2 separate regions of the Homo sapiens genome follow, and region 2 is linked to region 1. Evidence: fine-mapped expression QTL. A gene starts in region 1. The other region holds a variant in brackets. All regions are shown on one strand. Distances are between the middles of the regions.

The links. PIP is the estimated chance that this variant, and not a neighbour inherited with it, causes the effect.
Region 2: its variant is fine-mapped to the expression of INSL6 in tibial nerve (GTEx, PIP 0.96).

What each region holds. Positions count from the first base shown.
Region 1 is chr9:5,179,045-5,195,468 of GRCh38, forward strand. It overlaps INSL6 (insulin like 6), which reads right to left and starts at 6,595. Exons shown (of 2, transcript NM_007179.3): 1 at 6,270-6,595. The coding sequence starts at 6,558.
Region 2 is chr9:4,842,952-4,859,375 of GRCh38, forward strand. RCL1 (RNA terminal phosphate cyclase like 1) reads left to right here. Exons shown (of 9, transcript NM_005772.5): 7 at 1,574-1,730; 8 at 6,496-6,599. It overlaps MIR101-2 (microRNA 101-2), which reads left to right and starts at 7,346; the gene lies at 7,346-7,424. LOC124902113 (a long non-coding RNA gene) reads left to right here and starts at 7,416. Exons shown (of 2, transcript XR_007061402.1): 1 at 7,416-10,311; 2 at 10,863-14,124. The variant A/C (reference allele first, on the strand shown) is at 8,057.

The DNA of each region.
Region 1 (16,424 bases):
AAAAAAAAAAAAAAATCATGAGAGTGAACAGACAACCTACAGAATGGGAGAAAATTTCTGCAATCTATCCATCTGACAAAGCTCTAATATCCAGCATCTATAAGTAACTTAAACAAATTTACAAGAAAAAAACAACCCCATTAAAAAGTGGGCAAAAGACATGAACAGAGAGTTCTCAAAAGAAGACATATATGTGGCCAACAAACAAAAAATAGCTCAACATCACTGATCATTAGAGAAATGCAAATCAAGATTACAATGAGATACCATCTCATGCCAGTCAGAATGGCTATTATTAAAGCTAAAAAACAACAGATGCTGGCAAGGTTGTGGAGAAAAAGGAACACTTTTACACTGTTGGTAGGGTTCAACCATTGTGGAAGACAGTGTGGTGATTTCTCAAAGACCTAGAGGCAGAAATACCATTTGACCCAGCAATCCATTACTGGGTGTATACCCAAAGGAATGTAAATCATTCTGTTATAAAGATACATGCAAGCATATGTTCATTGCAGCACTATTCACAATAGCAAAGACATGGAATCAACCTAAATGCCCACCAATGATAAACTGGATATAGAAAACTTGCTACACATACACCATGGAATACTATGCAGCTATAAAAAAGAATGAGATCATGTCCTTTGCAGGGACATGGATGGAGTTGGAAACCATCATTCTCAGCAAACTAATGCAGGAACAGAAACCAAACACCACATGTTCTCACTTGTAAGTGTGAACTGAACGATGAGAACACATGGACACATGCAGGGGAAAACACACACTGGGGCCTGCCTGACAGGGGCCCTGGGGGAAGGGAAAGTATCAGGAGGAATAGCTAATGGATGCTGGGATTAATACATAGGTGATAGGATGATCTGTGCAGCAAACCACCATGACACACATTTATCTATGTAACAAACCTGCACATCCTGCACATGTACTCCTGAACTTAGAAGGTGAAGCAAAAAAAAGAAGTCAATCCTCTTCAAATTAGTGTATATATTCTGTTGTGGGAAGTCAGGGACCCTGAACGGAGGGACCGGCTGGAGCCATGGCAGAGGAACATAAATTGTGAAGATTTCATTTTAATATGGACATTTATCAGTTCCCAAATAATACTTTTATAATTTCTTATGCCTGTCTTTACTCTCTTAATCCTGTTATCTTCGTAAGCTGAGGATGTATGTCACCTCAGGACCACTGTGATAATTGTGTTAACTGTACAAATTGATTGTAAAACGTGTGTTTGAACAATATGAAATCAGTGCACCTTGAAAAAGAACAGAATAACAGCAATTTTTAGGGAACAAGGGAAGACAACTGTAAGGTCTGACTGCCTGCGGGGTTGGGCAAAAAGAGCCATATTTTTCTTCTTGCAGAGAGGCTATAAACGGATGTGCAAGTAGGGAAGATATCACTAAATTCTTTTTCCTAGCAAGGAATATTAGTATTAATACCCTGGGAAAGGAATGTACTACTGGAGGGAGGTCTATAAACAGCCGCTTCGGGAATGTCTGTCTTATGTCGTTGACATAAGGACTGATATACGCCCTGGTCTCCTGCAGTACCCTCAGGCTTACTAGGGTGGGGAAAAACTCCACCCTGGTAAATTTGTGGTCAGACTGGTTCTCTGCTCTCAAACCCTGTTTTCTGTTATTTAAGATGTTTATCAAGACAATACATGCACCACTGAACATAAACCTTTATCAGTAGTTCTGCTTTTGCCCTTTCCCTTGTGATCTTTATTGGACCCTTATCAGTAGTTCTGCTTTTGCCATTTGTCCTGTTCCCTCAGAAGCATGTCATCTTTGTTAGACCCTTATTAGTAGTTCTGCTCTTTGCACTTTGAAGCATGTGATCTACTCCCTGTTCTTACACCCCCTCCCCTTTTGAAACTCTTAACAAAAAACTTGATGGTTTGAGGCTCAGGCCAGCATTAGAGTCCTACTGATATGTGCTGTCACCCCCGGCGGCCCAGCTGTAAAATTCCTTTCTTTGTACTCTTTATTTCTCAGCCAGCGGACACTTATGGAAAATAGAACCTACATTGAAATATTGGGGGCGGGTTCCCCTGATAATATTCCACGCATCCCAAATAAAATTCCATGTGGACTTTTAAAAAAGAAATTCAATAAGCATACTTTTAAATATATATGAAAGAATAAAGGTTGAAGATTTAGGTTAGTCAATCCTAAGGGAAAAAATAAACATTGAAGACTTGTCCTGCCAGATAAATGACATCCTATAGAGTCACAGTATCAAAAATAGTAACGATAAAAGGCCAAATAAATGACCAATTAAATAAAATAGAAAGCTCAAACTTATCAGTAATGGTTATCCCACAAATTAGTGAGAAAAATAATTGATTAGTAGAAAGTGTTCAGAAAACTAGCTCCCTATGTAGAGAAAAAAAGACTTACTGAGAAAGTGAGGTAATATTCCTACCGAGACCAGAACTAAAAATTAGCCTAATAATTAAGGACTTAATGTGAAAAGTAAAACTGAAAAGTTAACAGAAGGACAGAAAAGGACCTCTAATACATAAGGCAAAACACTTACTGCTTAATTATATAAAAGTTAAGGCTTTCTGTCAAGCAACAGCAATAGACAGATGTCAAAATGGGAGAACATATTTGTGACATCTAAAACCAACAACTAGTTGTTACTGTATCTAGATTTGATTAACTCCTATAAACCAACTGGAAAATGATAACAATTCCAACAAGAATTGGGCAAAATATATAAACAGGAAATTTTAAGAGAAAATCCAAAAGGTTAACATGTATATGAAAAGATGTTCAGACCCAGAGCAAGTTAAAATAGAAATATAGTGTCATTTTACATCTATTACACTGGTAAAAGTTAATAACTGTATAATGCTAATTGTTGACATAGATATGAGGACACAGGATTGGTGGTGCAACTATACATTGGTGTAGTCACTCTGAAGAGCAATCTGATACTCCTCAGGCAAATTAAACATACACATACTTCATGACACAGCAATTCCACTCTAGATGTGTATCCCAGAAACACTTCTAGGTTCATAAGGGGACACATACAATGATGTTCATGGCAGTGTTATCTGTAGTGGTAGGGAGTTCAAGGCTACATAGGTTAGGTGTTCAAAACTGAATAAATCAGTAAAATGTGAGGAATGCACATGAGTATTATGCAGTAGTTAGAAGCAATGGACTAAATGTTCACATAGCAACAATAAGATATAGATCTTAAATGCCTTTTAGATATATCTTAAAACATATGAACAGGAAAGAATGCATAATTTGCAAAAACTTATAAAAACAAAAAATATATAATAAACACATTACAACAATTGCCAAGGAGAGGAGGAGAATGGGAGTGGAGAAAGGGGCTAAGTGAGGATAATCACCTTCTGTAAATTATAATTTACTTATGTTAATTGTCTATCTTTACTATTCTGTAGGCTTCATGAGGGTAGGAGCCTTCACCGTTTACTCTAACATCCCAATCACCAAGAAGAGTGCCTAACACATGATAGGTACTCAAATTTTGTTGAACTAATATATAAAGAGAAGGGCCCTTTACAGACTAGTTGTGATGATATCTGAAACATAAAGAAACAAAAAAAACAAGAATATGTGACATGAAGACTAAGAATATGGGAATATGATTAATCTAACTGGAATAGGGGTTACAGATTATGAAAAGCTGATTTTGAAACATTAATGATTTCACCTGGCACTAATATCTCGGAAGCACAATACTCAGTCGTAATTTAGAAATATGATGTCAACTTCATGGTGCCACATTACGGGGTAGGTCTTGGAGATACTGCCTCCACCTTCAGGGTCCATTAACAAGAAGCACACAATTACAGATTCAAGATATGTATAAGTAGCTTTGAAAAAAAGCATTTTTTAATAGCAGCGTAGCAAATTATATTTTTCTGTGTCAGACTCAAGTAGATCATCAGGATATTAAAATTTCAGACAACTGACTTGATCTAACACAACAACTTGTCCTGCTGGTAAAAGTGAAATAAAAAGTAATCAACTTTCCAGCCATATTCATATATAAAAATGATGTCATAATTATGTATTCTATATTAGAAACATATACATCTCTGCAACTTCTAAATTATTTCCTAGAAATTAACAGGACAGAATAAATGTCATCTTCCCTTATAGATTAATAATTTTTAAAATTATAATACAATTCATGTTGATAACCTAACCCATTTTTCCTTCCTCTACATATTTCAATACAACTGTGGTTTTACTGTTACATAGTATTTCCACTTCAGCAAACTGTCTTTTACATAGTTTCCATAGTAGCAGGTTTTGTGGGTATAACAATTTTCAAATATTTTCAGATACATTTTTATTTTCTACAAGTCTTGTTTCATTGCAGCTTCCTGCTCATTATTAATGACATTTATTCTTCCAGGGGAGTGTGAATAATACTTAAAACAAAAGGATCATTAACAAGCTGAGTTTTAAGGTTGAACATTTTTATTAAGAAAACTGTCTTTAGAGCACTTTGTTGAGAAAAGGCATTCCAACCTCTCTTTAAATAACAGCCTCAAGCTTGGAGGTCTAAAAATAAAATTTTGACTACAGTATTATAGCATAGGTAGTGAAAGCACAGTATTTGATGTGAGAGAAATGCCCACCCAACATAAAGCAGAAAGGGAAGGCTCTCCTTGCACTCCTGGGAGAAAAGAACAAGAAAGAGGAGTTTAAAAGAAAAAAAAAAGAGAGAGACAGACAGTAAACTGGACCTTGTTACTCAAAAGTGTGGGCCACGAACTAGCAGCACCTGGGAGCTAGTTAAAAACGAAAAATATCAGGCCCCACCCCAGGTCTACTAACTCAGAGTCGGTAAATTAACAGGATTCCCAAATGATTCATATGCACATTAAAGCGTGAGAGTCACTGAACTAAAGTAAAAGTAGAAGACTGGGGAGAGACACTTCCTTCATTATAACAGAAGGACAAGGTGAGGTTTGTATGTGGGTTAGTTTGATGGGTCGGTTTGAAAATGATCATGAATCAGTCTCATGGTTTCTGTCTTTAAAAGTTTTTATTCTTTCAGCAACAGTGACTTTATAAATTCTATTCATTCATTCCAAAAAAGCTAATGAGTGCCTACAATGTGCATTGTTTGACTTTTTTCAGTCCTCTACATTAGGGTCTCTTTTTGGCATGATAGTTTACTCATTTCCTTAATTTCAGAAATCTTCACTTTTACAAGATTTGTCCAAATCAAATCAACTGAATTACTGTAAAAGGCAGTAATCTTCTTCCTATGGATACACTATAAACAAAGTGCAATTTCTTTTAAAATGACAAATCATACTGGGACTAAAATGTCTTAGTCACAAAATGTAAAAACATAGTAAGATATACCAATGAATCTGGAACAAGAATATCCTTCCTGCAGACTGCTTGAAAGCATCAAGTATAAATTCAGCGCATATTAAACACATGCGATGTGCTAGGCCATCTGCTAAGCATTTCAGACAAAAATATGCATGAAATAGTCCCTATAATACAGTATGGTATATAGGGCTGACTTTATGGGACTGAAACCTATGTAGTCACACAGGCCTTGCATTTGGTTTAAATGTTCCTTTGTTGTTCTGAATAAATTTACCTTTGAAACTTTAAGTGAATGAAATACAAGTACGTAAACTCTTAAATGAAGCCTGATAGGAGAACGGACCAGGCCTATCTCCTGGTACGTGACCAGGGGATATGGACAAGTAAGGAAAACAGTTTTATATTTTACTACCTTTATTTTCATGGCCCTTTCCTGCTTTTTTGAACAAGGTACTCTGCATTTTTATCTTCTACAAGGTTGGGCTGATTCTGTAGCCAATGACGACAGTCAAATACAACTATGTGCTAGATACTGTGGTAGAAAGGACAATGGAGCCATTGGCCATGAAAAGGTCAATGATGACTTCACAGGGAAAATGATACTTAAGTTGGGCTTTGAAGGACAAAAAGGAGTTTGCCAGATGACTGGCACTCCAGAAAAGAACAACATTCTTACATAAATATGTAGACTTACAAGTGTACATTTATTTCCTCCAAGTTAAAAAAAAAAGCGCTTCATTGAAGTTTTGTATATTTTCAATACACTGTTTTTTACAATTTTTTAAAGAGCTGTGTACTAGGCACAAATTCCACTTCCTGGGGAAGCTCACCTTCTGGCAGAGCAAATGCAGGAATAAGAAATATACAGAGGTGAACAAACATGCCTTCGGTTTCGATTTTTACCTGGGTTTGTGCCTCTTCCCCGGGCCGGGGAAGCGGTTTGCGGGCTTTCGAACTGGTATGGGCTGTAGGCTTCGACCTTCTCCGAGGCCTGTGCAATCAACCGTGAGAAAGGGGTTTCCTCCTCGAAACGGAACTGGCTCCAGTTGGCATGGCCGCAGAGTTTTTCTATTTCTTTCACCAAGTACCTGCCGCACAGCTTCCTGGCACTGCTGATGTCGCTCAGTTCACGAGAAAACCGAACCAGCAGGAGTCCAAGCCACAGCAGGGACAAGCGGAGGAGCCGCGGCATCCCTGTGACCCCAGGCTAGTCCTCCGCGTTGTGCAATGGCGGTCGGCCGGACCCTGCTCCCTGTCTGCGCCTGCGCCAGGCCGAGCGGCGCGCACAAACACTGCGGAATTCCGAGCGCGTGGGGGCGTCGCCAGAACTTCAAGGGAAGGCGCGCGCCGGCTGCGTCAAGGCTTTCCCGCCAGCTCAGGGGTCTCAGGTGGTCGAAGGTAGCAGGCCCTGGCTCCTAAAATGAAAGCCAAAAATCCCCTCACTACCCCGCCACCCCCTAGTTTGATTCATTTTTCTTTCCTTCCTCAATGGGAGATTCCTCACCAAGCGTGAGAACATAGGATCCCTGTTACCTGATAACGTAGGTTAAAAAGTGTTGCTCCCTCCACCTGGAATGCGTTTCTCGTTCTTGTTTGCCAGGTTGTTAATAAAGCTTCGTCTCCCTCACAGAAACCCCCTGTCATCTCTTTCACGGTGTTAATCGACCTGTTTCCATTTGTGGGCGTGTAACCTCTTTCCTGAGACCCCCGCTTCATGAAGGCAAGGGCCTGCGTCTGTTCTTGCTTTCCATCGTACCCCGGGATCTGGCATTTAGCTGGCAATCAAATATGTGGTGAAACGTTTAAGTGTTGCATATGGCCATGTGCGTTTAGTCAGGTTCAAAGCTTCTTCAGAAAAATCCTACTGGTTCACAGGGAGGCATGGGCCTTAGCCTCAATCTCCAGAAAAAAGAAGTAGGGACGCTGTCTTGAGGTACCTGGGATGGAAATCTGGTTCTTTCGGTTAGATAATGTAGAGGATTGTGTATTACCAAATTAACTTGTGACAGGGACCCCTAGAGGATTTGCCTTGTAAGAATAACAGCATGCAGCATGAAATGCTCATTTAGGTGAGATAATTTTGCTCAGTTAGGAGGGAAGGGGCAGGGAAGCGAAGCGCAATCGGCATAGGTAGCTTTATCATTTTAAATGAAGTTCTGTGTTACTAGTGTGTTGGCGTGGAAGGATGTACTATCGGCCACAAGAGGGCATTCGGTGGCTGTCTCAGGAATAAGGTTCAGGATGCTGAAGCCACAGGTGCAAGCTTATCAGTGATCTCACCATTTCCCTATACAATTTTATTTTTTTCTCCCTTTCTTTTCTGTCTTCTGACTCTATGTCTTTTTCTTAATTTTCCGTTTCCCTATCTTTTCCCTGCTTCCCAGTGGCATCCATGAATGCTGTTAAATTAACTGCCAATTGGATTTTTTAAATGGTTGATATAATATAGATTAGTAAAATTTAATCACCTTCCTTAAAAAATAACTTATGTCCAAACTATAGTGGGCCATGAGTCCTAGTCAGAACTTTATCAGGTAAGGTTTTTGAGAACGGAAAATATTAATCATACTGAGATGAATGTAAGCCTTGTGGTAACCACAAGGCAAAACCTATAGTAGATATATAAAAGATAAAAAAGAAGAAATCAAGCATACCACTACAGGATATCATCTAATCACAAAGAGAACAAGAGAAAAAGAAAAGAACAAAGGATCTACAAAATAACCACTAAACAATTAACAAAATGCAGTAGTAAATTCTAACCCATCAATAACTACTTTGAATGTAAATGGATTATGTTCTTTGATCAAAAAACAGGGCTGAATGGATAAAAAAAAAAAGACTCAACTATATACTGCCCACAAGAGACTCATCAAAAGACTTGAACTATACTTTGGAACAAGTGGAGCTAACAGATATTTATGGGACATTCCATCCAACAGCAACAGAATACGCATTCTTCTAAAATGCACAGAGAACATTCACCAGAATAGATCATATGTTATGCTACAAAGCAAGTCCTAATAAATTTAGAAGAATAAAATAATATCAAATATCTTTTCTGGCCACAATGGAATGAAAGTAGAAATCAATAAAAGGAGGAACTTTTGAAAACTCACAAATATGTGGAAATTAAAGAACATGTTCCTAACTACCAGTGGGTCAAAGAAGAAATATAAAGGGAGTTTAAAAAATATCTTGAGACAGGCTGGGCTCAGTGGCTCATGCCTGTAATCCCAGCACTTTGGGAGGCTGAGGTGAGTGGATCACTTGAGGCCAAGAGCTCAAGACCAGCCTGGCCAACATGGTGAAACCCTGTCTCTACTAAAAATACGAAAAATTAGTCAGGTGTGGTGGCAGGCACCTGTAATCCCTGCTGCTCAGGAGGCTGAGGCAGGAGAATGGCTTGAACCTGGGAAGCGGAGGTTGCAGTGAGCTGAGAGGGCATCACTGCACTCCAGCCTGTGTGACAGAGTGAGACTCCATCTCAAAAACTCCAAAATGGAAACACAACATACCAAAATTTATGGTATGCAGCAAACACAGTGCTGAGAGAGAAGTTTATAGTAATAAGCACCTATGTCAAAAAAGATCTCAAATAAACAACTTAACATTGTATTTCAAGGAACTAGAAGAACAAAGTAAGCCCAAGCTTAGCAGAAAGAAGAAAATAACGAAAGTCCAACAAAAAAATTTTAAAAATAGAGGCTAGCAAAACAATAGAAAAGTTTAACAAAACTAAAGTTGGTTCTTTCAAAAGATGACCAGGATTAGGGACCCACTTAAATAAGCAATCTAGCTGCCCCTTGGCAGGGTGGATGTGCTGCACTGGTGGGAATCCCCCTTGTCTGGGCTGCCCTTACTCTTCAGAGCCAGCAGGCAGAAAAGACTAAGATGGCTGATCCACAATACCACAGCCACTTCTCCTCCCAGGGGCTCCTCTCAGGGATATCAGAGTTCTGTCCATGAACCCCTGGCTGGGGATGCTGAGATTCCCATAGCGGGGGCCCCTGCCTGGTGAGGAGGAGTGGATCAGGATCCTGCTTAAAGAAGCAGTCTGGCTACAAACTGACCCAGCAGCTGTGCTGCACTCTGGGGAATTGCTCCCAATTCAGACTGCTGAGTCTCGTTGGCACCAGTGGCATGGGAAAACTGTGGACTGCAGCCATAGTGATGGCAGCACCCCCTCACTCCCACGAACTCAGTCTTTTTAGGCAGTCTGTAGCCTGCCGTGCTGGCCAGAGAGGATTCTAAGCCAGTAGGTTTTAGCTTGTGGGGTTCCGTGGGAGCAAGACCTCGTGGATCCCTGGCTTCAGCTCCCTTCCCATGGGAGTGGGTGGATCTCCTGCATCGCGGGAGTTTCCAAAGCTGAAGTATGCAAATATTCCTGTGTCTCAGTGCCTGCTCTAGTGGCCACCCACCCCAGCCACCATCATGAGTCTGTACAGCTTTGTGCTTGTGATCCAAGTCCCTCGTGGCATGGACTCACAAGGGGACCTCCTGATCTGCAGGTTGCATTGATCCATGGCAAAAGTGTGGTTTTCAGGGTAGGGTAGCACAATCCATCACTGCCCCAGATGGCTGGGGGAGGGAGTTCCCTTTGCCCCATGCAGCTCCCAGGTGGGCCCTCTCTCTACCTTGCTTTTTCTCACTCTCCGTGGGTCGCACCAACTACCTAGCCAGTCCCAGTGAGAGAATCTTGGTACCTCAATTGACAATGCAGAATTCACTCTCCATTTTCATCCTCCTAGGTAAGAGCTGCAGAGTGAAGCTGTTTCTGTTCCGCCATCTTGGCTGCTCCTGGGTTCAAGGAATTTGCCTATCTTCTGTTTTATTTAGCTCCATTGTAATCTTCATTTTTTATTCTTCCTTCTTCTGGCTTGTTCTTTTTCTACCTACTTAAGGTGTACCTACTTATTAGTGCTGATATGGTTTGGCTCTGTGTCCCCACCCAAATATCATCTTGAATTATAACTTTGCAGAGGAAGGGATGAGGGACATGGGCCAGGGACAGGCTCGATCTGGGAAGCTGCCTTTTACTTCTGGGGCAGCATGTTTGTCTTGTTCTAGCATTAACTTTACTGGGCATTGTCCTCATCCTTTTGGATTGCAATCAGTATTTCAGACAGCACTCTTGCTGGCTTTATCCCAGGTAGCTGATGGTCTCTGAGGTTCTGAAGCTCTTTTCTGAATTCCCTTCCTCATAGCCTTCTATCTGTACCATCTTCCAGTCTCCACTTCATCCAGTCAGAGGTTCTTAGAGAAACTCATTTTGATTTATGATCATATCTGCCACTTTTTAAATTTCATGATCAATTTCTTACTAACAACTTCATATTTTCTGTGAATTCCTCACTGTTTTTCCTGACTTGACAACAGGAAACAATTTACATCGAATCCCTAACAACTTCTAAAACTGAAGTTTCTGGTTTTTAACAAATTAAATTTTAAATTTTGTGATAATTACAGATTCACACATGCCAATGTAATAAATAATTACTAGACCCTTTCCAGTTTTGCCAAAAGGTAACAGCTATGAAACTACAGCATGTATCAAAATGAGGATATTGACAGTTGAACAGTCATGATATAAATCTGTTCCACCACCATAAGGATTCCTTAAAGTCATACCAACTTCCAACCTGCGCCCTAACCCACTCCTTAAATTTTGAAAAAAAAGATTTTCCATTTTTAAATTTTATCATTTTGTGAATGTTTTAGAAATGAAATCATAAGCATGTAACTTTCTGGAGTTAGTGAAAAAACTCAGCCTGATCTCTGGATAGTCATGTGGCTTGATGCACTTGTCACTAGTTGGCTGTTTTTATTGTTGAATCTTATTCAATGGTGTGGATATACCACAGTTTGTGTAACTAACATGCATAAAGAACATTTTGTGTAGTTGCAGTGTTTGGCGATTACAAATCAGCCTATATAAACATTCATGTGCAGAATTTATGTAAATATTAATTTTAAATTTCTGGGAAAATGTTCAAGAATATAATCTCTGGTTTGTAAGATGGTTGCATGGTTACATGTTTAGTTTTTCTTAAAAAGTCACCAAAATATTTTCTGGGGTGGCTGTACCATTTTGTAGTCCCAGGAGAAAATTTTGCCTCTGTGTCTTCTCAGAAGAGTGGTTTATTTTTATTTCTGTGTATCAAGGGAGGGAAGAGAGGTAAATGAGCGTATTCTTCACCACCCTGACTGTCCTGTCTGGATTTCTCCAGGCTCTGTTATGCATTGAATTGTGTCCCCGAAGTGATCCACTGAAACCATAAATACCTGTATTTCAGAATGGGACCTTTATAGACCCTAGCGTGGCTGTAGATGTAGTTAGTTAGAATGAGGTCCCTCTGGAGCTGGGCCCTATATTCAGCAGGATGGATATCCTTACACAAAGATAATGTGAAGACAAAGGAACAGAGAGCACCATGTGTCAAGAGGGACAACATTGAAGAGCTGCAGCTACAACCAAGGAATGCCAAAAAGCAGCAGCAATCCATGTGAAGTTAGGAAGAAGAAAAGAGGATGCTCCCCAAAGGTTTCAGAACAACATTGGCACTGCCAACACCTGGATTTTAGCTTGCAGCATTCAGAACCATGAGAAAAAAAAATTCTTTTGTTTTAAACCAGTTTAGGTTCTTCGTTACATCCACCCTGGGAATCTCACAGTAGGGCCTTAGAGCTATTCTAGGAGTCTGTCCTTTTACTTCAATTGTCACACTGATTTATAAAGAATATTAAAACTAAGAATAAAGGGAAATTTATATCTTCCAAATGTCCTCCAGGAAGCAAAGCTTTGAACATTTCTTGGTTAAGAGATTTAAAATTATATATACTAGTAAAATTATGAAACTTCATCTATTATCATTTTTCCCTCACATCTGGACTAATGCCAGGGAGAAGGAAAGGCTGAAAAGGTTAGTGATCAGTGTGTGTGTTAGGATAATTTCTTGAGATGTTATCCTGGCTTGGCATGATACTGTATTATTCCGTCTCACATTTCCATTCCCCAGCCCAGTTCAAGCAGGCTGCCTGGGCCTTGGTTTTTGCCCGTCTAGCTTACTTTTGAAGGGCTATGCTAGAAAGGAGATGCCTAAAGCTGCACTTCCAATTGTTTATAAATGCCCAAAGACATATAAAAAGTTATACAAGTAACCCTGATAGGACTTGAGCCAGAGAGAGAGTGAAATACAGAGACAGACACAGAAAAAGAAACAGAAGGGAGATAATATGATTATTTCCTTAAATTACCCTGAGGTTGAAACTTCCCTATCCAAGGGAAGAGATATGATCCTTGTCAGCATTCTTTCTGTCCCCAGTGAGGGACACAAGTACAGAGGTGAGAGGACCATGTGGGATTGCACTGAGTGTTGCAGCGGTAGCCATTGAGGACAGTGCAGCCCAAGGATCTTAGTGCTTTGGCGCTAAGACCCTGGGTTCAGTGCACACCTTCATGGGTGTCCCCATTAGAACAATGTCTGATGTTGAATTCTCTACTAAGTAACAGAATTGGGATTGCTATTGATTTAGTAAAGAAGAAAGGTGGATATTTTCTGCACGTGAGAGACTGTGCCTTAAAATTGATACCTGTTGCGCAAAAACAGTCTTTGGGAATAAGAAAGGTAGGGGTCATGACACATCTGGGAAACTAGAGGGAAAAATGGAGAGAAAGATAGGCTAGTAGTAGGAGTATGTACTGGTGCAGACTGAGGCAACTACTTCAGTAGATAGTAGATAATAGTGACAGCCCTCAGTGTTATCAGTTAAGGACGAACTTGGAGAAAATGTGTTCTGGAATGGACAGTGAGCTGTGTACTGCAGATAAGTAAGTCTGAATGCAAGAGTTACAATGAGCAACAAAGGTTCCACCATGAAAGCACAACTCTTAAAACATGTTGGCTTTCTCCCCAAACAGTTACATTCTGTCGTTCTCTGCTCTCTCAATGAGAAGAAGCTCTCCAGGAGGGACTAAGAGAGGACATGATAAACCTTAGAGCCTTGGTTATGATTGACCATGTATGGAACTTTGGAATATAGGAACTTCTATGTTAGTCTCCTATAATTCTGTTTACAGACATTTGATTGAAGCAATTTACTTTTTCTAAAGTAAATTTTTTCTAAAGTGCATTTTCTCTGTAAAGGCTAGCTAATATGTATGGATACAGAGGTTGAAGAAACTGACTAAATTTAAAAATGATACCATGATGTTTTACCAACTCTAAGAAATGCTCATATTATTTCATGGTTTGTTTTACTTACGTAAATGTTCTGTAAATTCTAAAATGGTAGACTTGAATCCATTTCCTCGCTAGTTCTTTCTGAGACAAAAAATGAGTTATTTATTCAGTTATCTCTATGATTATATATTTATTTAAAAGCATAAAAAACCTTACTAGAGAAACAGTTGAGTTCATTTGGGCACAAAAATCTGAATATATTTATTGTCAGTTCAGCTTGCTTTCAAATAATATTTCACTAAGCCCCAAACCCTCCCACTTCCAATGAAGTAAAATATTGCAGTGTTTGTGGTTTTGTGTTCATGTAGTATACGTTGACAAAATTGATTAAATAAATGTATAACTGTTACATGTGGTTGGTGTCAGTTATGTATAAAAAGTTATTATGTTGGTTAAAGTAATAAAGCTTTTATAATCATTATATAGTCAATGAGATTCAAAAGCAATTGATTTACATATACTCTCAATAAAAAAGAGAAAGAGACTTTTTCAGCAGAAAAAAGATCAATTTCATAGAAGTACAATAGTGAAAAGACTATGGTGTTACAGAGCAAGTGAAACATGTAAGCATTAATAATGATTTCTCACATTCTAACAATCAGTGGTCACTGAATTGGACATCACTGAATGTTTCATGGAGAATACATAGGAGGTTAGGTGAGAAGTTCACAATTACTTTACTTTGTGCATACTTTCAGAAAAGTCCCTTTGTCACAACATTCTTCACAGCATAGTTTACTGGCATCATCAGCTTCACTTCTCTTTTGTCAGGAAAGTAGTACCTTTCTCAGTGACAGCTACCCCTCAGACAGAATTGCCTTCAGCTCCTGTGACAAATTAGGAATGAATCCCAACGTCATATCTAAGGTCCCTGCATCTTTATTAGTGGTGGATGACATCATCTCTGTGAAGTCAAAAAGGAGGGGTGAAAGGTGAGGAAAAACATTCATTTCAAAGAGGATTAGAAAAATTACAGAATTTTGCCTGGATCGCATTGTAACCATTGCCTCAATGTAATTAAACACCAAAGAGAATCAGCAAGTATCCTAACATCTAAACAACTTAGCTTACTTAGAGTTGGGCACCTTGAAGTACTACAGTATTATTAAGGATCTGCTAACTTCACTCTCCTGTCTGTGGACTCTTTCCGTGACAATCAAGATGCTTGCACCATGGCACTTTTGACTTTCTCTAACGCTATTTTGATTGATAACTTCCAACTGCGTTATGGACTAGATAACACTAAGGAAATTTCTTTCATAATCACAAATTTTCCAATAGAAAGACTCACATATTTAAGTCTCTATTCACATATAACTGTACGTCTATATCTACATCCACCCCAATGCCAGACATTTAACATTGATTTTCTATGTGTGCTTTCCATTTTTCTTGTTAAATTCATCTACAGTTTTCAAAGATTTTTAATGACCATTTTCACTAATTTATTCAGAAAAAGTGAAAATTAAACACAAATTATACTACAATCTACTCTTCCTTGGCTTGCATTAGTAATTTTCCTAAACTCAGTTTTATTTTTCCCTATTTTATAATAAAATAAACAAACTCTGACCAACAATGTAGGAAAAGTAAATAACTCTGAAATCATGCTGTGAATCCTATAAAAAGGAAGCAAGTGTTTGCTGTACATGATGACTTTAAATGGGGTCATTTAGTGATTTAATATGGGTTATGCATATAGTCTACAAGATGTAATTTTGGAAGGCAGCCGTGTGCACCACGATACCACCAATGCACTTACAAGATGTAATTTTGGATTCACACATTGCCTATTCAAAACCTGTTTCCTCTACATTAAATGTAAAACAATAATTAGTAATTTACCTTGGCTTTTCAGAATTTAATGCGACCTATTAGACTGACTAGAGTGGCCTCTATAGCTTTTGAAAGCTGCCCTTGCTAATTCTAACTTAACTTGCAATTTATCTTTATGACTACCCTGTGACTTGGTAAAGTTTAAATACCATTCTGGTATTGAACTACCATTCTGGTATTGAACTATGCTCAACTCTGAAATTTCACTTTTAAAATCCATTGCAGCTTCAAATGTTGAAAACATTAATCAGATCTTCAGCTATAGTGGTCTGAAGGGGTAGCTTCCCTTGTCTCTGGTCCTCTCCAATTTCTCCTCTAATGATCCAGGCATCTTTCTCTTACAACTCTTGTCCCTCAACACCCTATAAGACCCAATTAAAAAATATGCGAGGCAAGGCTCTCTTGGAGTGCATTTAAAACCATTAAAACAAAGAGAGAGATTGGACGCTTTTAATTGCTTAGGCCACAGTCTAGCTTTTGGACAAAAGAAGAGTCATTAAATCTAAGGTCCTTCCTGTCTCCCATTCGAGGACCCTAACAGGTCTCAGAGTCCCTGTGCCTGTCCGGCATGTAAAGCAGCTTGATAACCAGTGCACCACCTCTCTGTTTGCCCACTTTTCTCTCAATTCGAAATTTGCTATCCAGGTGCCTGTCCTCCTCACCCCCGGCACCTTCCTACACCCCCCACCCAGGTTCTACCTCCTCCCAGCTGTCCCACTGAGACTCTTTCAATAAAAGTACATTACAAAGGAAAAGCCCAAACTTCAGGTATCAACCTCTGTGGAGTAAGGACTGGGCAAGAGCAGCTACAGAGCTGTGGAGCCAGGCCTTGCAGGCTGCTGTTCCAATTGATCGGTTGCCCTAATGCAACCAATAGGAAGTGTGGGATGGCCAGGGATTGGGGGGCCATTTGCCTGTGAGTGGTCCAGATACCTGCAGAAGCTCCTCCTGGATGCTGGAGATTCTGTCCTGGGGATCC
Region 2 (16,424 bases), 340 kb before region 1:
CTGACTCAGCTGACCCTAGAGTGTGGTCAAGTCCATACTTACTAATGGTGAGTAGAAGCCTTACACGTAGATAAAGACATGGACATGATGTAGACTGTGGGCCATCAACTCCAAGCCCCATTTTAAAAATTACATGTAAAACCAATGTGGGATTTAAATTTGTGTTTGGTTTTTTTAAATCTCCAGTTACAGATGACTAATAGTGCTCTTCCTTCTCTGTTATTAAAATTATAAAGTCATGGATGGGTATTTCTCTCTTCTGATTCAGTGAAGTATCCAGTAAGTCAGGCTTGTTCAGATGTAAGAGTTTATGTTGTGGCCATGGCCTAGAACCTTAGGGGACAGCACTTCTTGGTGGCCTATGTCAGCGCTTTGGCCAGAATGCACATCAGTCCAGTGTGGTCCCATTTTAACTCTCACAGTAATTTTTTTTTTTCTTAATTGGGTCCTTTACCAAGGAAAGCTGTGGAGGCTGGCCTTTGCAAACTATACCAGTGCATATCTCTAATGAGGTCACCTGATGACCAGCAGCTTGGTCAGCCTAACTTGAAATAGGCCTGATAACACATATTTCCCACAAGTTGGGAAGAAAAATTAGAGTAATTTACATAGAACCTAATATATATTCTTTGTCTTTTCTAAAGTTACTTAAATTGTGTTAAATGGAATAATTCTGATTAAATATAAAGTTTATCGTAATGACAAATACACCTTAGAAAACTCACACAGATGGAAATTCTTGGGAAATGCAGGTAAATGGGTAAAGCAGCAGTGGCACCTTGTCTTGCTTTCTCTCCCCTTCATCTTCTAATCTTCACTTTTGTATGCCACTGCCTGCAGCCACTGCTGGACACCCTCTCACTTCTGCTGGTCAGGTGACTCAAAGGCAATTTGGGATTATGCTAAAATTCTCTAGGTGTCCCATGATGATAGGTGGATAGCACAGTGTTAGATTGTTAAGCATAACTCAGAGTGCCTCCCAGAACCTTTGATGAAATGGGTAACTCACTGCACCCCCTTTCCTTGGCAGGTGTTGTTAACCTTCGACTGCATAGACAAGCAAATTTTTTTTTTCCTTAAGAATCTAAGGACTGACTAACATAGTTCTTCTATATAGTGAGCTCATATAGTGCATTCGAAACATTAATTTTATACATAGTTTTAGTGAAACAAGTATTTTGGCTAGTCTCCTGCCAGACACATAGAAAGTATTGTGTGAGCGTGTGTTGAGTTGTGTTAAAGGGGGCAGGTCTGTGTTGTGGTTGCATACGGATTGTACTGCTGGGAAGGCCGCCACACCTTTCCTGTTGATGTGTCTACTTAACAGTCATTGGGAAAGTAGAATTGAGCTGTCAAATCTTAAAATTTTGTGGAGAGATGCTTGTTTTTGGACTGATTTTCTTTTCTGGTCAGCTAGTAAACTAGTAGCAACTCTATGAGGTTAATGCAGCCAGAAAGAAGCCTTTGAACACAGTGCCGTCAAAAAAAATGTTTGTCTTCTCTTTCCGTTTGCTGGTGAGTGGAAACCTCACTTGGTTAAACCTACTCAGTGTTTGTGCCTTTGTATCTCCAGGTCTCCGGGCTTTGGGTTGTCACTGGTTGCTGAGACCACCAGTGGCACCTTCCTCAGTGCTGAACTGGCCTCCAACCCCCAGGGCCAGGGAGCAGCAGTACTTCCAGAGGACCTTGGCAGGAACTGTGCCCGGCTGCTGCTGGAGGAAATCTACAGGGTATGTCCACAGCTTCCTCTGATAGAGGAGTGACCAGGAAGCAGTTTGTTTTCTCATTCTCATCTCTTGGCAGCTTTCGTCCTCTTCCAAGGGCTCAAGCCAAGGAGATAATCTGTTCCTGTGCATTAAGCAGTTCAGCCTTAACTAGTTTAATTGATTAGCTCAACCAGTCAGTGAGTAGAGATCTAGCCCCACTGGGTTGAGACACAGGGCAGGTAAGTTTTAACAGTGAGCCAAGGAAAGAACTGGAACAGTCATAAAGGAAAGGGAAGGTTAAAAAAAGGAAGCAGGTAAGGTAAGGTGGTGGCTGACACACTGCCCTAGCCAAAGAGAGTACCATCCCGGCACCCCCCGATTGCTGCCATGTGGGAAGATGGACTCATTCTTTTTAGATCTTTTAAGAGAAGCTAGAAATCTGGATTTGTATGTGACAGTTGATTCATATATAAAACAATAGCAACAGGCTAGATTTTGCAATGCATTCTAGAGCACAGAATCTCAGTTAACAGATAAGTATTAGAAAAGAAGAAAAAAATTTAAAAAAGCACAGAATAACTAGGGAAGGCAGGCCTGTGGCACAGCATAGCAGAAGCTTTGGAAAACCTAAGAACATGGAACAGAGAAGGGGTAAACTGATGTTGAAGACAGACTCAACCAGTTGTCATTTTGCTTCTGCAGGTCTGCTGGTGGGACACAGCTGAGACCAATTTGCCCTCTCAGTTGCCACAGTCTTTCTCTGTTGATCCTTTCATTGCAACGGGCACATATGCATGCACACACTTTTACTGTTTCCTCAAAATAGGTGAGGTGACCTAAAGTAAGGGAGAAATTTGGAAAGATGATGGCAGAAAGAATAAGATACAGTTTCCTAAAAGATATATTCCCTGAGATCCCCTATACTTGGTTAGAAGAGGGTCACAAATCTGGGTCCAAGATTTCTGTTAGTCTGCACCGTCTTTTGCCTTGGTCCCACATCAAGAAGGTGAAACCTTTTCTCTGACATGCAGAGTCCAGGAAAGGCTCTGAAGGATGGTCGTTTCTCTGCTCTGTGTGTTAGGTCCCAGATTCTTGAACTGAGCATCAGCAAGAACTATACTCTAGTTGATTTGCTGTTGTATGGTGTATAATGTTTGTAAATCATCTCTCTTCTTCCCCTAAGGAGCTGAAGAGACTTCTTTCTTTGTATTGTTCTGTGTATTTCTTCTCAGTTGTCAGGCATCTTTCTGGTCTCCAAGTAAGTTTTCTCGTTTATGGTAGCAAAAATCACATCTGAGCCAAGTTAAATAAAATCAGTAAAACAGGTAAAGTGGCAATTTAGTTTTTCTTTTAATTCTTCCTTTTGCCACTGGTTCAGTTTATTAATCAGGGTGGTAGGGTAAAGCCTGACTAGCCATAGGTATTGATCCTCAGACCAGCCTCACAGTGGAAAACAGCTTATATTTATAGTCTACTCCCTTGATCCAAGTCAGTGTTCTTGAAAATGTCTCATTGGTCCAAGATGGAACACATGAGAATGAGCTGTTTCAGAATTAATTAAATTTCCAGGTCCTAAATGGCTCTATTTAATGACCATCTAATTAAAAATGGAAGACAGTGGACCTATAGTTTTATTTTCAGGAGAGTAGCTCCAGCCCCTCTACTCGGCATTCACCTGGGAAATAGTAGAAGAAGGAGATGAAATCTTCCTGAAGGAGGAGGTATTCTTTGACAAGTCTTGTGCAGTCACGATCTGGCCTCAGATGTTTTGGTGCTAAATCAGTTTACTTTTTTATGCTAAATTTAATAATTTTGTGAAAAATGGGTAGTAACTAAAAGTTTGGGGTAGATGATCAAGAGGTTGCCCTGCCAGTTACTTAATTCACGAAGTTTGTGGTCTACTTATTTGTAGGGGGGCGGGAAACAGTGCATGCAATGTGTTTCCCTGGGTCTCTTGTTGTGCAGGATTTCTTTTCCTGGTCCTGTAGTGTCTGGCCGTGGCTGGTCCTGTAGTGGCCTTCTCTCTAACTATGGGGACACTTCCATGTCTTTCTAATAGACCTTGGGAGAATTAGAAGCATCACATTATACAGTAGTCCAGTAGGAGCCTATGGGCACAGCTAGAGTGTGGGGTTTATATCCCTATAAATAGCAGGCTATAAGCCTCAGGGTAAAAGCACCTACCACTCCACAAGAGGAAAAACATGCAGTTTAAATTAGGTTCTTTAATATTTTTCTTTTTTTTTTTGAGGAAGAGTCTCACTCTTTCCCAGGCTGGAGTGCAGTGACGTGATCTTGGCTCACTGCAACCTCTGCCTTCTGGGTTCAAGTGATCTTCCTGCCTTAGCCTCCCATGTAGCTGGAGGCATGTGCCACCACGCCTGGCTAATTTTGTATTTTTAGTAGAGATAGGGTTTCTCCATGTTGGTCAGGCTGGTCTCGAACTCCTGACCTCAGGTGTTCCACCCGCCTCGGCCTCCCAAAGTGCTGGGATTACAGACGTGAGCCACTGTGCCTGGCAATTTTTTTTCTTTAGTTGAGATCTACTTTCAGTCTTCCATTGTGCCTGGACCAAATTTCTTTCGTTTTCTTTTAGTTATTCAGAAAACTTCCTTTTTATGTCTATGATCTTTAATTATTAAAAGGATGGAAATACTTCATGTTTTTCTGAATAATTTTCTGTAGAGTTGTGATGTGACATGGATTGAATGAGTGGTAAAAAATCCATCCCTTTTGAAGGTGCTATTTATCAAGTTTTAAGCCTCTGATCTAATCCCCCCTGTTCCATTTATGCCTCATCGGTTACCAAGCCTTCTTGATTCTGTCCCAGGCTTTCTGGAACTGCCTTTTCTTTCCATCCTTTTCACTGCTCTAATCACTGCCTGCCTCCCTGCTCCACTCCACAACTGGATTATGGCCACTGGCTCTCTGCATTTCTAGCAGAGAAGTTCTTTCCAAATCCTAACATCCTTTTCAGGCTAAAATACTGATCTGATCTCTTCACTCATGTGCACAGAGACCTTCACTGGCTTCTCACTTTCCTGGGACAAAGTCAGAATTCTCGACCCATTTCGGAAAGGCTTGCCTTAATTGGGCTACCCACCTTCTCTGTGCTGTATGTGCTTCTCCACAGGCAGCAGTGGTGCCTTCCAGGCTGGTCACCTGGCCATTCCTTGCTGGCCCTGGCATTTTATTTTTCCCCATCATTCTGTTCTTCCTTCCTCCCCAAACCCTGCTCATCTCTCAAGGGCTGGCTCAAGTAGTCCTGAGTCCTAAAGCCCTCCTCAGGTATCTGGCAGGTGACACCTCCCCCCAGCATAGGTAGGGTGATAGCCCCTACCACTTCCTCCATGATGTCCTGTACAGGGACCTTAGCTATCTATTACATTAAAATACTGGTCCAGTGAATGGTGAAATAACAACAGTGATAGGAAGCAGAGACTGAAGAGAACACTTTAATTTTAGGCTGTCTTATGAAAGGGAGCAAGATCTATAAAACAGTTTTGTTGGTCGTCATATTTTCCATGGGTCAGGTTTTTCTTTTTGGGTAGAAAAGGAAAAGGAACTCTCCTTGTCCTAGAATTTGCTATGTGATCTAAATGTTGTTTTCTGTCCTTTATTAACTAAGGTAGTTTAGGGACGTGCAATAGATTTTCATAAAGGCTAGCAGTAAGATCAATCCTTATTTCCTTCACCATTATTAGGGCTACTAAATGATATCTGACAGCCAGAGAATTTCAGAGTGTCTGTATCTGAAAATGGATTTATTTCCTACCCTACATGCCTTAAAAAGGAGGCAGGGGCAGTTGTAGCCATATGAACCACACTGCTGGCCACCTATCCTGTTCAGTCTAGCCTTGGATAGTAACGTGCCTTGGTCAGACTGGATTTCTAATTTTGACCTGTGCAAAATATGTAGAAATTCAAGGTCATCCTTCTTTGACTATGTACAATATGTTTTAAAGTTATTCCAGAAAGAATGATCAGAAAGCGTGTTTGTATGCTTATGTATGCGTCTAGTGGAGGCAAAACAGTTAAAATGGCTGAGAAAATGAAAAACAAAAGAAGAAAGGCAACCTAAGCAGTTGTACCTCAGGAGAAAGTGTTTGAAGAGAAGTCTGTTCTGCTTGTTAATTTGGAAGAAAGGGAAGGAAAAGGGGGTGGAAGGCATAATTTTATACATAAGTAGTAAGAATAAAGGGATCTAACCTTAACAAGTCTTCAGTTTTAAGGAACTCAGGAAGAGATAAAGGAGAGAAGTTAATAGAGTATGGCAAGCAGTTTCCTGAATGTATTTGAATAAGTGTAAAAGTAAGGCCATGAAAAGGCCGTTTCATGTCAGATAGACTGTGTTGTTCTGTGACAGATTCAATAAATATGAGCGTCATCCACTTAACCCTTGGAATTAACTCTACATCTTCTAGAACTGATTAAGATTTTTTTTTTTTTGCATATACTCAATAAAGATGATGTCCTCCTGCTGCTGCTTTAATGATAAAGGGAAAGTTTCATTTTTTTTTTTTTTTACTAGATTCACTTAAGAAGATTTGAATCTGATAGTCTCATTCTGATAGTCTCAACTATTACAGTTGCTCTAATTAACTGTTAGTTTAACCCTCTACAGTTAGTTGATACAATGATTACTCTTATAAGACCTGTATTCTGTTTTATTGTTGCTTGAACTTTGGATTTTGATATTATGAGTGTATGTTTCTGGTTTTTTTTTTCCTCCTCTCTTTTGTTGGCTTTCCATTTTCTGGTTTGTACAATTATTAATTTGTGTTTACAGGGTGGATGCGTAGACTCGACCAACCAAAGCCTGGCGCTACTACTCATGACCCTTGGACAGCAGGATGTTTCCAAAGTCCTGCTAGGCCCTCTCTCTCCCTACACGTAAGTTATTCTTTTTCAACCTCGTTATTCTGTCCAGTGTAATTTTCTCATTGCCCAAAATGACAAAGGGTGTTGTGCTGCACAGAGCCTGCACTATGAACACCTGCTTGTGTTTATCCTCAAATCAGCCAGCAGTTGTCACTCTTAACCTGGTGTTTATTTTTACATACAAGGATTTTTGCATTTCTTTCCTTCCTTAATCCCAGGTAACTGAAATTGCATGATCTCTATTGGGCAGTTATTTTGTTCGTGCTTTAGATTTTGTTTCCAGGTTAGAGGTAAACTCCTGGTTTGGTGTAGCTTGGATTTTATTACTAGTTTTTTTTTAATCATTCTTTTCCTTAGCTGTCTAACTTGCTGTGGGAAAACAGGCTTTTTGTCTAAGATGATAGGATATGAGCTCACTGGGAAAGATGACAAAAGACAGAGTTTGTATTAATGCTACTGGACTAGTAGGGAATTGTAGAAGTGAGTTTGGATTGTTGAATGTTAGCAGAAGTTGACTGCTGTGGTGTAAAAGCAAGCACTCTTCAAAAAGAACAGTGTCAGAAGACTTGAATTATAAATGACACTGTGAAAGAAGCATTTCCTATTGATAGTAAATGAGGTTGCGGAAAACAGCCTATTTGAGTACTGACATTGTGTGTGTGTGTTTTCACGTGCTTGCATACTTGGAGATCATCATATGGCCCATCTGAGGTTGGTGAGCTGGGTGGCAGGGAATATTCAGGTAGATATGAGACTGAACTGTCCTTTTTCGGTTATCATGGTACCGATGCTGTATATCTGAAAGGTACAGTACTGTGATAACTGAAGAATGGTGGTGCCATCACATTGAGAAAGGGTTGAGGACTGCGGTGGGGCTATGCACCCTTGGGCCATGGCGTTGGGGGCATGAAAACCAGGAGCTTGAAATAAATTCTTATGGAGGCTTTTTTTTTTCTTTTTTTTTTTTTTTTTGGAATTCGTGGTGGGAGGTTTTTTTAGAACAGGAAAATGGAAGAGAATACATTCTGTTAGCAGAGAGGGAAGACTGATAAGCAGGAAACTGGTAAGGACCACATTATCTCCTGATAGCTTGTGTAAAAGTATTTCGTAGGACAGGATACCTAAAATTGAGTAATCCTAAATGGCGTGGTAACATCAGTAGTAAACAATGCTAAAATAGACTTGGTAGTTAAGTACTTGGAGAGGAGATGAGGGCTGGAAGAATGGCACCCTAGGTACAGAGACTCGCTTCCTGTAGAGAGCTCACTGGAGGCGGCTGCCAGCTGTGTGGCCACTGTGGCCCCACCGGCTTTGTAGCTGGGCTCGTAGCTGCCGTTTCCCAGCCCTTGCTTCAGGCCTGGGGAAGTCCTGCTTGCACACACGGTATGAGGTATGGGGTGTTGTCTTGAATGTGTGTGGTCCTGGGGCATGGGGTTTGGCAGAACATTCTGTGAAAATGGAATACATAT[A/C]TGTTTTTTTTCGTGACACTTTTTTTCTTTTGCTTTTGGAGATTTTTCAATTTGGCTCCAGGACCTGTATGATGTTTTCAAGCTTTGCAGAGATGCTCAAGATATGACTGGACATTTTTGAAAGTTCCTGTGTCCTCTTCAACACATCTTCTCACCAAACATTAATTGTAGTGTCTTTTCTTCCAGAAAACTTGCATAAAATGACTTCCTCTCCTGTGAAAACAGTGTCCTGCTCTGAATGGAGCTTTAAAGGAGTAGCACAAATTGTAAGATGATGTATCTTGAGGCTGGGGCTTAGAGATATTCTGCTGCCTCCCAGAGCTTTGTGCAGACGGGTCTGCCAGGGTGGGAAAGGGAAGCCTCCGTTCTTTTTGGTAAGCTAGCATAAAGACAGGTAAGGGAGTCTATTTTCAAGAAAGCTGGATCTGTTTCATACTCTTTCTGCCCCTAATCACTATGGACAGCTCCAGCAGCACAAAGAGATGAAGGGCAAAGGCAGGATGCAGCAGGCAAAGTTAACATTGTATTTGTGAGTACAGTTGAGGATAAAAAAGGGATGAAATCCACGGTGAGGACCATCATGGTGGGGGAATAGTTTATTCTAATGGATTCAAGAGCTTTGGAGACCAAACTAACACATTTATTTTTATGTGTAGTTAAAGTCATAGAAACCTGTTTTGTGAAACCTCAGATTTCTAAAGAAAACCAGAAGCAAGACCTTCCTTGGTTTAAAAAAAAAAAAGCATTTCTTCAAGCAGTTTGGACCTGTTTTTCGTGTGTATAAAACAGCTTTTTAAATGTCTATGTAAAGAGCATTGGGATTGCTGTTGGTGGTTTTCTGTGCTACTTGAGAAAGTAAGTCTGTATGTGTGAAACTCTTTTTTTTTTTTTGAGACAGAGTTTCGCTCTGTCGCCCAGGCTAGAGGGCAGAGGCGCAATCTCCGCCCACTGCAAGCTCCGCCTCCCGGGTTCAACGCCATTCTCCTACCTCAGCCTCCCGAGTAGCTGGGACTACAGGCACCCGCCACCGTGCCTGGCTAATTTTTTGTATTTTTAGTAGAGACGGGGTTTCACCATGTTAGCCAGGATGGTCTCGATCTCCTGACCTCGTGGTCCACCCGCCTTGGCCTCCCAAAGTGCTGGGATTGCAGGCCTGAGCCACCAAGTCCGGCCAATGTGAAACTCTTTTAGAAAGGCCCAAGAGATTTTTTTTCAGTAGAATAAAATACTGTTGGATAATCACTGGTATATGAAGATTCTATTTCTGTTAAATTTGTTGAGTTTTAGGTGGCTTACAGTTAGTGACAGTAGTTGCACCCTCCATTCAACAAGCTTAATTTTACAGTTTAGGGAGGGAGGATTTATACTTTTGGATTAACAGCAAGAAAAATAGCAAAAATTAAGATGCATCTTAATTAGCACTTTCAGAAATTATTTGTGGAATGAGACTGCAGTTACCAGAGCTCTCTGCATTCTGCCAGTGCACAAGTCTTGGAGTCCAGCCTATCTGGACTTAAGGCTCTACCACGCGCTACCAGGAGACCGTGGAAATGGTATTTAGCATCTTGGAGCCTTGGTGTCATTTGTAGATAAGGTGCGTGGTCCTGAAGTCCTGGACTTGTGGAGATGGAACGAAGCTTAGATTAAGTCAGATGCTTAGTGCTCCTGGCAACGTGCCTGAGGAGCTGTCAGTGCTGGGTGCTGTGGTTCCTGCCTGGACACCCCTTCACCCTGCTGCAGTCCAGTCCCTTGGTCAGGTCACTTTTTTTTTTTTTTAACTGCTCCTTGAGGAGCAGGACTACCCCAGAGGCAGTGTGGCTAGAGTAGCCCGGTCAGGTCACTTTGAACCCCAGGAGGCCTAGTAAACTTGCTTTGGGTGATTTTAGGGTTTAAGTCATCTGTAAGTGGTCTGCCCAGCTACCTATAAATCTATATCCATTAATTTTAAATTATGGATTAAAAAATTTTAATTTCTAGTTATTATTTTTATGACTGACTTCCCCTAGTCACATTACTGAGCAAACTACACACATCTTATTGATCCTAAGAATTCTGTAAGGTAGATGTTTATTTAAACAACACCGTGTTTACTGTGTGCAAGATGTTGTTTTAAGCACTCAGACATAATAACTTATCTGGTTTTCATCATAACTTCATAAGGGCAAAAAAGGCAAGTACTATCATGTGCACCGTCTTACAGGTGATGGGATTGAGGCACAGCGAGGTCAAGTTACGTGCCCAGGGTCACACAGACAGTAAGTGGGGTTCAGACCTGGACAGTCTCCTCCAGTCACTGCTTCCCTTACCCACTGTGCTCTTTTTTTTTTTTTTTTTGAGACGGAGTCTCCTCTGTCGCCCAGGCTGAGTGCAGTGGCGCGATCTCAGCTCACTGCAAGCTCTACCTCCCAGGTTCGTGCCATTCTCCTGCCTCAGCCTCCTGAGTAGCTGGGACTACAGGCGCCCGCCACCATGCCCGGCTAATTTTTTGTATTTTTAGTAGAGACGGGGTTTCATCGTGTTAGCCAGGATGATCTCGATCTCCTGACCTGGTGATCCACATGCTTCGGCCTCCCAAAGTGCTGGGATTACAGACGTGAGCCACCGTGCCCGGCCAACCCATTGTGCTCTTATGTAAGAGCTGGGATTCCATCCATATCGCTGGACTCCAAGCACCTTGCCTGAGGCAGGATGCCATGCTACATCTTTTCAGCAAAGTCCTCGTTTCAAATTCTGCTGTAAAATGATCTCTTTCTATCTTTAGTTGGAAATCTAAAATAAACCGTGACTTTTTTTTTTCTAACTTTAGTTAATGACCTTTTTCCATGACTGTGGAAGTGCTGAGGAGCTAGAGGACACTGTCCTTGTTAAACACCAACTGAGTGGGGCTTCCTAGCCCACTCAGCCTAAAGCTCAGCCCTCTGAAGAACCAATGAGGAAACCAGTGGGGAAACTGGGAACTGCCGGCCAAGCCTGCCTCTACTTGGGGTCAGTGGCCTCACTGCATTCCATGAGCTTGCACAGTACCACTATGTCTTAGTTTTGTGAAGCGTTTAAATTCTGTAAAGCCCTGTCACCTGATGTTTGAGCCCTAGAACATAATTGGTGTATGGTAAAAGCAAGTGATAGCCTTCCTTCTCAGATAAAAAAGAGGTCACTGACCTGCTTATGGTGAGATCCTGTCTGAACTGGGCCTGGGACCCCATCTCCTGACAGTGCAGCTAGCCTAGTTCTCTGTTTCCTGCTGCCTCAGTAACTGAATGTAGTAATTTCATTTGGAGCAGAGGTCAGCTTGTCTTTGGAAAAGCCTCTATTCAGCAGAAAAAGCATCAGCAGTATATTTAAAAGCTGCCATGTAATGACTATAGGGACTCCATTGAGCAGATCCTTTTCTTATCTCCAGATCTTTTCCCTCAACTTCCAGAGCATGTCCTTACACCTGAGATGTAGGTACCCCCAGCTCTGTCCCATATCCAGTGGCATAGTAACCAGGTGGCTTAGTGGAGGAGGACGCAGGACCCTCTGTTGTGGTTTGTGCCTGTGGGGGCTGCCAGAGAGAGGGCTCACCCCATGATTGCCTTCACCCCAATCTCTCACATGCTTCAAAAGAGGGGTCTGGTGGGAGGGGCTGTGTTTAAGGGTGGGATCTGGCAGCCTGTCAAATCCTGGTCAGTTGGGATTCAACGGACCCATGACCACAAGCCTCATGGCCTTTCCTGTTGACCAGCAGTGGCAGTGGGAACAACTCACCTTTTGAAAATACATAGGAAGGCCGGGTGCGGTGGCTCACACCTGTAATCCCAGCACTTTGGGAGGCCGAGGCGGGTAGATCACGAGGTCAGGAGTTCAAGACCAGCCTGGCCAACATGTGAAACCCCGTCTCTACTAAAAATACAAAATTAGCCGGGCGTGGTGGCACATGTCTCTAATCCCAGCTACTCGGGAGGCTGAGGCAGGAGAATCACTTGAACCTGGGAGGCAGAGGTTGCAGTTAGCTGAGATCGCACCATTGCACCCCAGCCTGGGTGACAGAGCAAGACTCCGTCTCAAAAAAAAAAAAAAAAAAAAATAGGAAAAGTTATCTCTGTGCTCCAGAATTCTCTGAAACCTGCTTGTCAGATGGACTAGAGGCTTTCGTAGAAAAGTCAGTTGCTTTTTGTTTTCTGAAAATCATTTTGTCCCGGGGAAAAAAAAAGCCTCACTGCAGATAATCATTCTCTATGTTAGGTGTTAAAATCCTTTACACAGGAGTTGCATAGAGCCCCTACTGCCTAGAATGGTTCTTCTGAAAAGCTGCTATTTGCGCTGTGTGGGTGGTTACTCATTGAGGGGCAGAGCTGCTCTCGGTGAGCGGTGGGTCTCTTTGCCCTGGGTGTGTGGCTGTGTGGTTGTGTCTAGGAAGTGTGAATCTCCAGTGTAGTGCTGTGGAAGAGAGGGGCAGGGAAATATGAACTCAAGAGGCGGTGCCTCAGTGCAGCTGCTGCTGTGGAGAGCTGTTGGGCTGTGGAGCAGGACGTGGATCAGCACTGGACAAGACTTTGTTCAAGTGCATGTAGATACAGGACGAGCTTACTCTTCATTTGCTTTTCGTTTTCTTAAGGAGGCTGTTTGCTGGGATTTAATATTGTCTGTGGTTTTTTTTCAGGTTGTGAGCATTTTTGCTCTTCAATATCCCAGCTGCCAGAGACATAGGGAGAATGGGGCTAGAGGTGGGGGAAAGATTCTGAAATGTACCTTAATCTAGTCTCTTACACAGTCTTCCTTGGACAGGCTGAGGAGTTGGCAGAACATTATGTAAAAAGTGGAACTAACTTTGCTTTTTCTAACTGTTCCAAAGGCTACAAATACCCCAAACTTGCAAATACACAGGCCTGCACACTTGAGCCTGTGTTCCTCCCATCCTTCTCCAAGAGATCAGAAGCAAGCTGAGGGCCCGTAGAAATTCTGCCAGCTGGGGAGGGTGTCTGGTTTTTCAAGCACAGTTGAGTGATTCAGAGTGAAGTAGGCTGGGTGACATCCTGGGAGCAGAGCATGCCCCAGGCCTGTGTTAGTTTGAGGCAGCAGCAAAGGAGAGACCAATCTGTTTTCTCCTTCAGATGCAGAGTGGGTGAGATGGCTGGCTTTTTCCAGGTTGCCGCCAGCTGGAAGCTTTGCCCACAGATGTGGACTGTTTATCTGTGGTTTGCTGTGTTTTCTTTTTTCCCTAGGACAGGATGGGGGAGATGGTGGGATGGATAGAAAGCAACAACGACAACAGAAATTTAATTGGTTAGTAAGACAGGAAAGCCAGCAGGGAAAGCTGACTTCCCTTAATTGCCAAGAATGTTGAAAATTGTTTCTCAAAATTACCCCAACTCCTAAATTCTATCCAGTGCCTCTTTACTGAGAACCTTTACAGTGCCTTGTTTGAATAACGGGTTCAGTGATGGAGAAGAGCCTCTTTACTGAGGCTAAATTCTATTCAGTGCCTCTTTACTGAGAACCTTATACAGTACCTTGTTTGAATAACGGGTTCAGTGTTGGAGAAAAGCATTGCTGTTGAGGTACTTAAATAATTTAATGATGGGGAAGGGGACAGTGATACATAAGCATTTAATTAGACACCATGAGCAGAGAATGCTATGGAAACCTGGAGGGGTGGGAAAGATCGTTTGGGGTAGGGTTTATGGGCTAGGAAAGACTTCATAGAAAAGTTGACAAATGGGATGTTATTTTAAAGGTCGAGATGAAGTTGCACATTCCTAGGTGGAAGGAAAGCAAGGAATTGGGGGATTTTTCTATGAGCATCCAGCACTGACCAGAACTCCTGCCCTCTAGGGTTGTTAATGTTTCATCTCTTAGCCCCTGATGCGCTGGTCACTTCAGCCACAGGGTCAGGAATTGTTCAGGCCCCCTTTTCTCCATGTAGCTGTTTCCTTCCTTTAACTAGATCAGTGCTCTTAGCACAGAGGGATGGGGATGGGAGGGAAATTCATCAAGGCAGGCTTTATATGTAGTTTGGTATACACCGAGTAGGGGTGAGAACCAGGATCAGTTGTTTTATAGCATGGCAAATATGTATTGATTTCTTTATTTTAAAAAGCTTTATTGAGAACCAATTCACATATGACACAATTTACCCATTTTAAGTACACAGTTTAAAGGTTTTTTAGTGTATTCACAGACTTGTGTAACCACAGCCACAATCTAATTTTAGCACATTTTTACTACCCCCAGAAAGAAACCCTGTGCCAGCTCACAGTGCCTCCCATTCTTCCCACTCTCCCCAGCCCCAGGCAACCACGAATCTCCTTTCTGCCTCTGTGATAGATTTGCCTGTTGTGGCTTTTTCATATTGTGTAGATAGAATCATACACTATCTGGTCCTTTGTGACTGGATTCTTTCACTTAGCATAATGTTTTCAGGGTTCATTGATGTAGCACGTATCAGTGCTTTGTTCCTTTTTTATGGCAGAAAAAAAAAAATCTTCCATTGAATGGATATACCACATTTTATGCATTCATCAGTTGGTAGACATTTGGGTTGCTTCTACGTTTTGACTCTTGTGAATAATGCCATTATGAATATTTGCGTGCAAGTTTTTGTGTGGGTGTATGTTTTCATTTCTCTTGTACATATTCCTAAGAGTAGAATTACCGTATCCTATGGTAACTCCCCGGTTAACATTTTGAGGAACTGCCAGGTTGTTTTCCACAGCGGCTGTACCGTTTTACATTCCCACCAGCAGTGTATGAGGGTTCTAGTGGTTCTGCCTCCTCACCCACACTTTTGTTATTGTATGTCTTTTTATTATAGCCATCCTATTGGATATGAAGTGATATTTCACAGTGGTTTTGATTTTCACTTCCCTAATAACCAGTGATGTTGAGCATCTTTTCATGTCCTTATTGGATATTTGTGAGGAAATATCCGTTTAGCTCTCCCACTTTTTTTTTTTTTTTTTTTCAGTGAGTCTTACTCTGTTGCCCAGGTGGGAGTGCAGTGGTGCAATCATAGCTCGAGTAGCTAGGACTACAGGCTCCTGCCATCATGCCTGGCTAATTTTAAAACAATTTTTTTGTAGAGATGGGGGTCGTAATAGACTGGTCTTGAATTCCAGGCCCCAAGCAATTTGCCTGCCTTGGCCTCCCAAACTGTTGGGATTACAGGTGTGAGGTACCATGCCTGTACTCTCCCATCGTTTAATTAGGTTATTTGTCTTTTTATTATTGAGTTGTAAGAGTTGTTTATATAGTTGAGATGCCTGACCTTTATCAGATATATGACTTGCAGATCTTTTCTCCAATCCTGTAGGTTGTTTTTTTACTTTCTTGATGGTGCACTTTGATGCACAAAGTATTTTAATTTTGATGAAGTCCAATTTATTTATTTTGTCTCTTATTGCCATCCTTTTGGTGTTGTATTTAAGAAATGGTTAAGAAACCGTTGCCTAGCCCAAGGTAATGAATATTTACTCCTGTATTTTCTTTAGTGAACTTTATAGTTTTAGCTCTTACAGCTATGACTTTGATCTCTTTTGGGTTAAGTTTTGTGTGTGATGTGAGGAAGGGGCCCAGCTTCATTCTTTCACCTGTGGATATCCAGTTGTTCCAGCATCATTTGTTGCAATGATTATGCTTTCCTCATTGAGGAAATTAGCCATAACTGTGTGGTTTATTTCTTGACTCTCAATTCTCTTCCATTGATCTATGTGTTTAGCGTCAGTGTTTTTAAAGCTCCTTAGGTTATTCCATGTGCAGTCGAGATTGAGAACCATCTGGCCAGAGTGGAGAGTTTGGCTGGTTTGATTGGGAGACAGTACAGTGCGAGGTTTTTGTAATACTTCACTATAGATGTGCAAGCCATCATTCTTCACTAAGCCAGTATTCCCTAACCTTGCCCAATGAGACTTGCCAGGGATTCTTGTTAACAACATAGATTTCTGGCCTCTATGAACTGGGGAGTACAGGGCCTGGTGGAGGGTAGGGAGGGATCAGCTTTGTGTGTGGACTGTGATTCTGGGCTCTTCCATATGGACATTTCCTACCAGTTGCAAGTTCACCATAACCTTCAGGAACCTGTGTATTTAATGAACTGTTCAGGTGAGTCTTATGGTCAGGCTAGCTGGGGTGACGCTAGGTCTGCCAGGCGAGACCATTAGAAGCCTGTGCACCTGCACTGCGGTTCATCCACAGAATTGCTCTTCCCAAGGTACTCTTGGACTGATGCCATCGCCCTGTGATGCCATTGTCCTTGTTGTGTTTACTGTGCACACTTCCCCGGCCACCTTATTTAATATTGCCTTCTGCCAAATATGTACAAATACTGTCATACCCACAGTTCTTCCCCGTCTGTGTTGTTTGCTTTGTTTACATTACATAGCACTTTTCA